2 linked regions of the Homo sapiens genome follow. The protein of the gene in region 2 interacts with the protein of the main gene of each other region in a biochemical or structural test. Each region holds a gene or a part of one and is shown on either strand. Other genes may lie near its edges.

Region 1 (3,752 bases), about 170 Mb from region 2:
TTATAATTTACTTTTTATTATCATAAGCTTTAAAGGGATGGTAACTTGATAAACATTTTCTGTACTAAGACAAATGCTGCAAATATATAGATTTTTAAAAAATTCACCTTTGCAATAAAAAGCAAAACAGCCACAACAACAACAACAAAAATCTTATGTTGTTTTTCTTTCCTCTTTCTTTCCTCTCCAAATAGAAATTGTCAATGTAACATGCTCAAGAGGTAGCTACTTCCCTGACTTTCAGAGGAAAGAAGAACGGTAAAAGTCAAAAAAAGACTTCAAAGTGAATTGTAATAAGCAAGTTGTTTTAAAATACTTTTTATACTTTTTGGAATTTCTACAAAAATTTTATTTTCAATGTCCTTTTAGATACTACATCATAAAGAGAAATATTAAATATTAATTATTAGTTACATTCTATAATCTATTGAAATGTACTCATGATTCATATTGACGCCGCTCAAGAACTATCCATTGAATAGACCATAAATGTGCAAAGATTTCAAACTTTAATAGGCACTGGAAGTCCAACTAGTTGCATTTTCCTACTGAATACAGCATTTGCATGATTTTTAAGAGTTTAAATATTTCTATCTCATCAAGGCTGTAATATTTACCCACCACCCAGGAAGGGCGGTGGCTCCACAAGAATTTCTAAAGCAAAAATGTATTAAAACTATTAACAAGAAACTAAAAACTTGATTTAAAATACATTCTGTGATAAAAATTGCAGAAAGTTAATATTTTACTAAATATCTCAATATATTTTTGAACTATTATATACCCAAGTATTCAATAAAATATGTCAATTAAATTCAAAATTTGAGGAAGCAAACTTCAGGTCTGAAAAGAGGGAGTGGCTTACATACAACCAAAGCTGTTTTATGACTTTTTAAAAGATCAAATTTGTTAAAAGAATAAAAACTCACTTATTTTATCATTAAAAAATTCTCAGGCTTTTATAAATGTGTGTTATTGTCACTTTGGAAGTTAAGTAATAATGTTGCTTTTGTAATATCTTTGAACAGTTGTAAATAAAGATACAGATAGACATTGCTTTCCTTTTAAAATTGTATTTTTTGTCCCGAAACATTTATGTCTTTGTAAACAGAAACAATGTATTCTGTCACACAACTAGCTATGTCTCCCTGAGACAACAATCTTGATGGTTTACAGCAGGCTTCTCACTTCCAGTTACCAACACATTTAAATTATTTTTATGTCTATTTCAAACATTCCTCCAAAAGAGAAAAAATAATTTAAAAAATATTAATATCCTTGTACTTACCTGTCACAAATACTTCTGTGTCCAGAAAGGCAAAGCCAAATGCCAAGAGTTTAAGCCACAAATACATGGTCATATCTGGAAGTCAGCCGTGTCCCTAAGAAACAGCATGCGTCCTTCTGAAAAGCAAAATAATTGTTATCTCTGTAGAAGTTTTTCTCTGTAAAAACGAATCAAAAATGTAAAAGTAAATAAATAAATGCATACTCTCCACTGTTGTCTTATCAGACGAGGAACAATTTCCTCCTCTGTTACCCTAAGAACAAACCACTTGCTAGCTGCATGAACTGCTAGGTGATGATGTCAGATTCGGTTTTACTAACTTCTCCAAAAATACTGTAAGGGTCCTCTTTGCAGGAAGTCAAAAAAGTTGTTCTAAGTCAGTAGAATGGCATTGCACTTCCTTAATTCAAGTAATTACACCAAGTTAGAAAGCCTTTTAAAAGATTTTCCCATCAAGGAAGATGTTTTTAAACCATCCAAATAATGCTCCTTTACAGTATCCATTACCATTTTTTTTAAATTAAATCCCCACAAAATAATCAATAATTTTCTTACTTAAGAGATGACAAACAGATTCAGCATAAGTATAACAAAATGGGTGTTGGCAAGATGACTTAGTAGAAAGTATCAATATTTGACTTACTGAGACGGCCAAATGAATGAAAAAACTACTAATCTGGTTATTTTTGGCAACCCAGTATCATTTACCATTAGGGCATTCAAAACTCAGCAATATGACAGTTTTAGCAGTAAAACCCATTTCTTATGCAAAAGCACTTTCAGACAGCTTAACAGTTTTGCCCCAAATCTTTCACAGATATCCTTGTGAAGCTAGGAGTGGAATCAGAATGTCATTTCTACTATAGTTACAGCAAACCCTGCTTCCAAAAACTAATGTTTCTGTGACTTAAGATGTTCTTGGCGCTACTGATGAGGGAAAGGACAGTGAAAACCAAGAGATACCTTTAACAAAAGTTAACTTGTTTCCTTTTTCTCAGCAATACTTTTTCAACTTTTTTAACAAATAAGACAATGAATTGTATTAACACAATGCTCTTCACCATTCTGATGTTCTTAGTTAAGTCCATCTATTAGGAAAATGCTTACTGGCAAAAAGTATAAATTCAACAATACAATTAGATGAATTGGTTTTATTAATACAATATCTATATGCCTTTAAAAATAAAAGTACACACATGTGCAACTCATTTATTTGAACAATAGATAATGCTTGGGGGACTTTTAGACAGACAGAGCCCTTGTGGTAATTCTGCAAACCCTAGTTTGGAAGCATTATTGTAGGGTTCTTATATTTAAGTAAATAAATCTTTTGATACTTACAAACTTTTTTGTTTTACTCTTACATTGGCTGCTAGGAACTACAGAGCCAAATTTCTATCACACTTTGTGCAAATGGAAATAACCCCACAGCTTAAACTCTAGGTAATAACCTTTTAATAAGATTGTAGTTAAGAATATTATTTTACTATGATTATTATTATATTTAACTTATGGAGCACTTACTATGTGCAGGAACTATGCTTTGCACTTTACATATATTGTATAATTTGTACGATACCCTTGAGCTAGATAATGTTATTATTCCCCATTTTATCTGTGATGTTCAGAGAGGTTAGTTGAGTTGCCTAAGATCTTGCAGCTAGGATGTAGACAAGCTATATTTAGAACCCAAGTCTCCAAGTTTAATTTTGCTTTCCTTACTCACCTTACTATTGCCCTTTATTTTTCTCATCCCTTTTACCAATCTTTTTGTACTATGTAAGTTTATAATACTCGAAAAGATAGACCTTTGAATCAGTGAAAATGAAATTATTCTCTTTTTGCAAATGTATTTTTAAATAAGATAACTGTGCAAGTAAGCACTAATTTTCATGTGGGTAGGCCTAATAAAACATCAGTGTCAGAACTCATGGATTTGAATACTCAGCTCCTCAGCCTATGTCTTAAAATACATTTGCAACAGAAAACTCTTTGGGGATTTGCTTTAAATATCTTTAAGCAAATACTTGTGTTCTGTGAGCTTGCTGTTATGGCAGAATATTTGGCAAAATTAGAGGCCAGGAGAAAAGTGTATATGATCTTTTAAAAGGAAGAAAAGTATATAAAATATACTCTATAACAATGTGAGTTTAGCAGCCTTAAACGGACATTTTAAAAGGGATTTGTGGCTTTAAAAAAATAGTAAGAAGTTAGGAGATTCAATTCCATTTCAGACAGGTGAGAAGACAGATTCTACCCAAGGAATCCAAGATAGATTAGCAACAAATGAGTTGCATTATATGTGTTAATCCAACACATATATAATGTTTTAACATATTCATTGTGTTAAAATTGAGTTTAGTGTCTATAGGAAATACTAGAATTTTAAGCAGCAAAATCTGTACTGTGTATTATAAAGGTGTAAAGACATACAGCTTGAAATACAGAGACATCAGCAGATGAA
Region 2 (3,752 bases):
TCTCCTGCAACATTCTATTCAGACCTCAATAATCAACTTAGACACAGAGTTCCATGATTACTGATTTACATGTCAGCCCCAGGGTCCCACTGCCTCTCCCATACCTTTGATGAGAGTGGGGGTTCATCAAGAGCAGAAGCTGTAGTTTATTTGTCTGAAAGCCACCAGCACCCAAAATTAGTTAATAAATGTCAACTGGAACATGCAGTGTTAATGCATAGAGTCTCCCATCTGCAAAGGTCTTAGAAACCAGCAAGCCTAATCTCCAATTTTATTATTTGTTGATTTATTTTTGAGATAAAGTGTCACTCTCTTGCCCAGACTGCAGTGCAATGACCCAATCCTAACTCACTGGAACCTCAAACTCCTGGGCTCAAGTGATCCTCTAACTTCAGCCTCCTGGGTAGCTGGCACCACTGAGCCCAGGTGATTTTTTATTTGTTCTAGAGATGGGGGTATTGCTATGTTGCCCGGACTGGTCTCAAATTCTTGGCTTCAAGTGATCCTTCCTTCTTGGCCTCCCAAAGTGCTGGGATTACAGGCATGAGCTGCCATACCTGGCTAAACCTCTGATTTTAGATGAGCAAACTGAGGCCCACAGAGGTATGCTTAAAGTCACACAACCTATTTGGAGTAGAGCAAAGCTGGAGTTGCTGGCCGGGCGTGGTGGCTCACATCTGTAATCGCGGCACTTTGGGAGACTGAGGCAGTAAGACCATTCAAACTCAGAAGTTCCAGACTAGCCTGGGCAACATAGTGAGACCTCATCTCTAGAAAAAAAATCAAAAAATTAGCCAGGTGTGATGGGGCATGCCTGTAGTTCCAGCTACTTGGGAGGCTGAGGCAAAAAGATCACTTGAGCCCAGGAGCTCAAGGCTGCAATGAGCTACGATTGTGCCACTGCACTCCAGCCTGGATAACAGAGCGAGAGCCTGTCTCAAAAAAAAAAAAAAAAAGGCCAGGCGCGGTGGCTCACACCTGTAATCCCAGCACTTTGGGAGGCCAAGGCGGGTGGGTCACAAGATTAAGGGATCGAGACCATCCTGGCCAACATGGTGCAACCCTGCCTCTACTAAAAATCCAAAAATTAATCGGGCTTGGTGGCAGGTGCCTGTAATCTCAGCTACTCAGGAGGCTGAGGCAGGAGAATCGCTTAAACCCAGGAGGTAGAGGTTGCAGTGAGCCGGAATTGCGCCATTGCACTCCAGCCTGGCAACAGAGTGAGATTCCGTCCGTCTCAAAAAAAAAAAAAAAAAAAAAAAAAAGTCCGGGCACGATGGCTCATTCCTGTAATCCCAGCACTTTGGGAGGCTGAGGCGGGTGGATCACGAGGTCAGGTGTTCAAGACCAGCCTGACCAACATGGTGAAACCCCGTGTCTACTAAAAATACAAAAATTAGCCAGGCATGGTGGCACACGCCTGTAATCCCAGCTACTCAGGAGGCTGAGGCAGGAGAATCACTTGAACCCGGGAGGCAGAGGTTGCAGTGAGCCGAGATCAAGCCACTGCACTCCAGCCTGGATGACAGAGCGAGACTCCATCTCAAAAGAGCAGGCTGGGCACGGTGGCTCATGCTTGTAATCCCAGCACTTTGGGAGGCCAAGGTGGGTGGATCACCTGGGGTCAGAAGTTCAAGACAACCAGCCTGGCCAACAATGGTGAAACCCTGTCTCTACTAAAAATACAAAAAAAAAAAAAAAAAAAAAGTTAGCTGGGCATGGTGGCTGGAGAATTGCTTGAACTCAAGAGGTGGAGGTTGCAGTGAGCCTAGATCCTGCCACTGCCACCGCACTGTTCACTCCAACTTGGGTGACAGAGACTCTGTCTAAAAAGAAAAAACAAAAGAGAGACAGAGAGAGAGAATTCATGCTGGGTCTAAGTGGAAGCAGGGAGCAGTGGAAGTTTCTCATTAGCAAAACTCAGAAGACTGTCCCCATAGTTAGAGACCTAAGTTCAAATAGCAATTTTGACACTTACTGTGTGACTTTGCTGAAATCATTCCTCCTAAGCCTCACTTTTCCTCTTCTGTCAAATGGGGCTCTTCATCCATTTCTCATAAGCTCACATGAATGTTAGCTTAGTTTAGTGCTTAGAAACACTTTCACCAGTGCACAATTCTGTCCTACCAACTCCTGCTTTGGAAGGTGGAAGAATGGGACTGGGTAATTAATCTCCTTTGCTTTAGACTCCTGTTTCTTTCTTTTTTCTTTTTTTAATAGAGTCTCGGCTGGGCGCGGTGGCTCATGCCTGTAATCCCAGCACTTTGGGAGGCTGAGGAGGGCAAATCACATGGTCAGGAGTTCGAGACAAGCCTGGCCAACATGGTGAAACCCTGTCTCTACTAAAAATACAAAAATTAGCTGGGCGTGGTGGTGCGCGCCTGTAATCCCAGCTTCTTGGGAGGCTGAGGCAGGAGAATTGCTTGAACCATGGAGGTGGAGGTTGCAGTGAGCTGAGACCACGCCATTGCACTCTAGCCTAGGTGACAGAGCAAGATACCATCTCAAAAGAAAAAAAAACAGACAGAATCTCACTCTGTCACCTAGGCTGGAGTTCAGTGGTGTGAACTTGGCTCACTGGAACCTCCACCTCCCAGGTTCAAGTGATTCTCCTGCCTCAGCCCCCTGACTAGCTAGGACTACAGGCATGTGTCACCACGCCCAGCTAATTTTTGTAATTTTAGTAGAGATGGGGGTTTCACCATGTTGGCCAGGGTGGTCTTGAACTCCTGACCTCAAGTGATCCACCCACCTCAGCCTCCCAAAGTGCTGGGATTACAGGCGTGAACCACCATGCCCAGCCTAGACTCCTGTTTCTTTTCTCTCTTTCCTTTTTTTTTTTTTTTTAGACTTGCTCTGTTGCCCAGGCTGGAGTGCAGTGGTGTGATCTGGGCTCACTGCAAGCTCTGTCTCTCCTCCCTCAGCCTCCCTAAGCAGGTGGGACTACAGGCGTGCACCACCACGCCTGGCTAATTTTTGTATTTTGTGTTTTGTATTTTTAGTAGAGACAGAGTTTTGCCACGTTGGCCAGGCTGGTCTCGAACTCCTGACCTCAGCCTCCCAAAGTGCTGGGATTACAGGCAATGAGCCACTGTGCCCAGCCCTAGACTCCTGTTTCTTTTCTTTTCTTTTTTTTTTTTTTTTGAGACGGAGTTTTGCTCTTGTTGCCCAAGCTGGAGTGCAATGGCACGATCTCGGCCCACCGCAACCTCTGCCTCCCAGGTTCAAGCGATTCTCCTACCTCAGTCTCCCAAGTAGCTGGGATTACAGGCATGTGCCACCACGCCCGGCTAATTTTGTATATTTATTTATTTACTTATTTATTTATTTACTTTTATGGGTATCTGGTAAGTATATATGTTTATGGGGTACATGATATATTTTGATAGAGGCATACAATGTGTAATAATCACAAAAGGGATAAATGAGCTATCCATCACCTCAAGCAAGCCTCTTATTATTATTATTATTATAAAAACTAGCTGGGCATGGTGGTGCATGCCTATAATCCCAGGTGCTTGGGAGGCTGAGGCAGGAGGATCACTTGAGCCCAGGAGTTCAAGGCCACAGTGAGCTACGATTGCACCACTGCACTCCAGCCTGGGTGACAGAACAAGACCCCTTGTCTAAAGTAAATAAATAAATGAATAATAATAATAAATTTTTTTAAGTTTTGAAAAGAAGCCCAACATACTGCCAGGCATTTGCATTTCTCTTTCTGCATTTGCATTTCTCTCATTACTTTTTTCTTT

The links. The genes of interacting proteins can lie anywhere in the genome.
Region 1: of the proteins of LCK (region 2) and PTPRC, one has a biochemical effect on the other in vitro, tested with the Homo sapiens proteins (5 studies listed by BioGRID and IntAct, with this or other methods).

Annotation. Positions count from the first base shown.
Region 1 is NC_000001.11:198,636,878-198,640,629, reverse strand, and holds the start of PTPRC (receptor-type tyrosine-protein phosphatase C isoform 1 precursor), read right to left. Parts: upstream 1,591-3,752; 5' UTR 1,493-1,590; intron 1,405-1,492; 5' UTR 1,362-1,404; coding exon 1,289-1,361; intron 1-1,288. UniProt on the Homo sapiens protein: Protein tyrosine-protein phosphatase required for T-cell activation through the antigen receptor. Acts as a positive regulator of T-cell coactivation upon binding to DPP4.
Region 2 is NC_000001.11:32,268,206-32,271,957, reverse strand, and holds part of LCK (tyrosine-protein kinase Lck), read right to left. Parts: intron 1-3,752. UniProt on the Homo sapiens protein: Non-receptor tyrosine-protein kinase that plays an essential role in the selection and maturation of developing T-cells in the thymus and in the function of mature T-cells. Plays a key role in T-cell antigen receptor (TCR)-linked signal transduction pathways.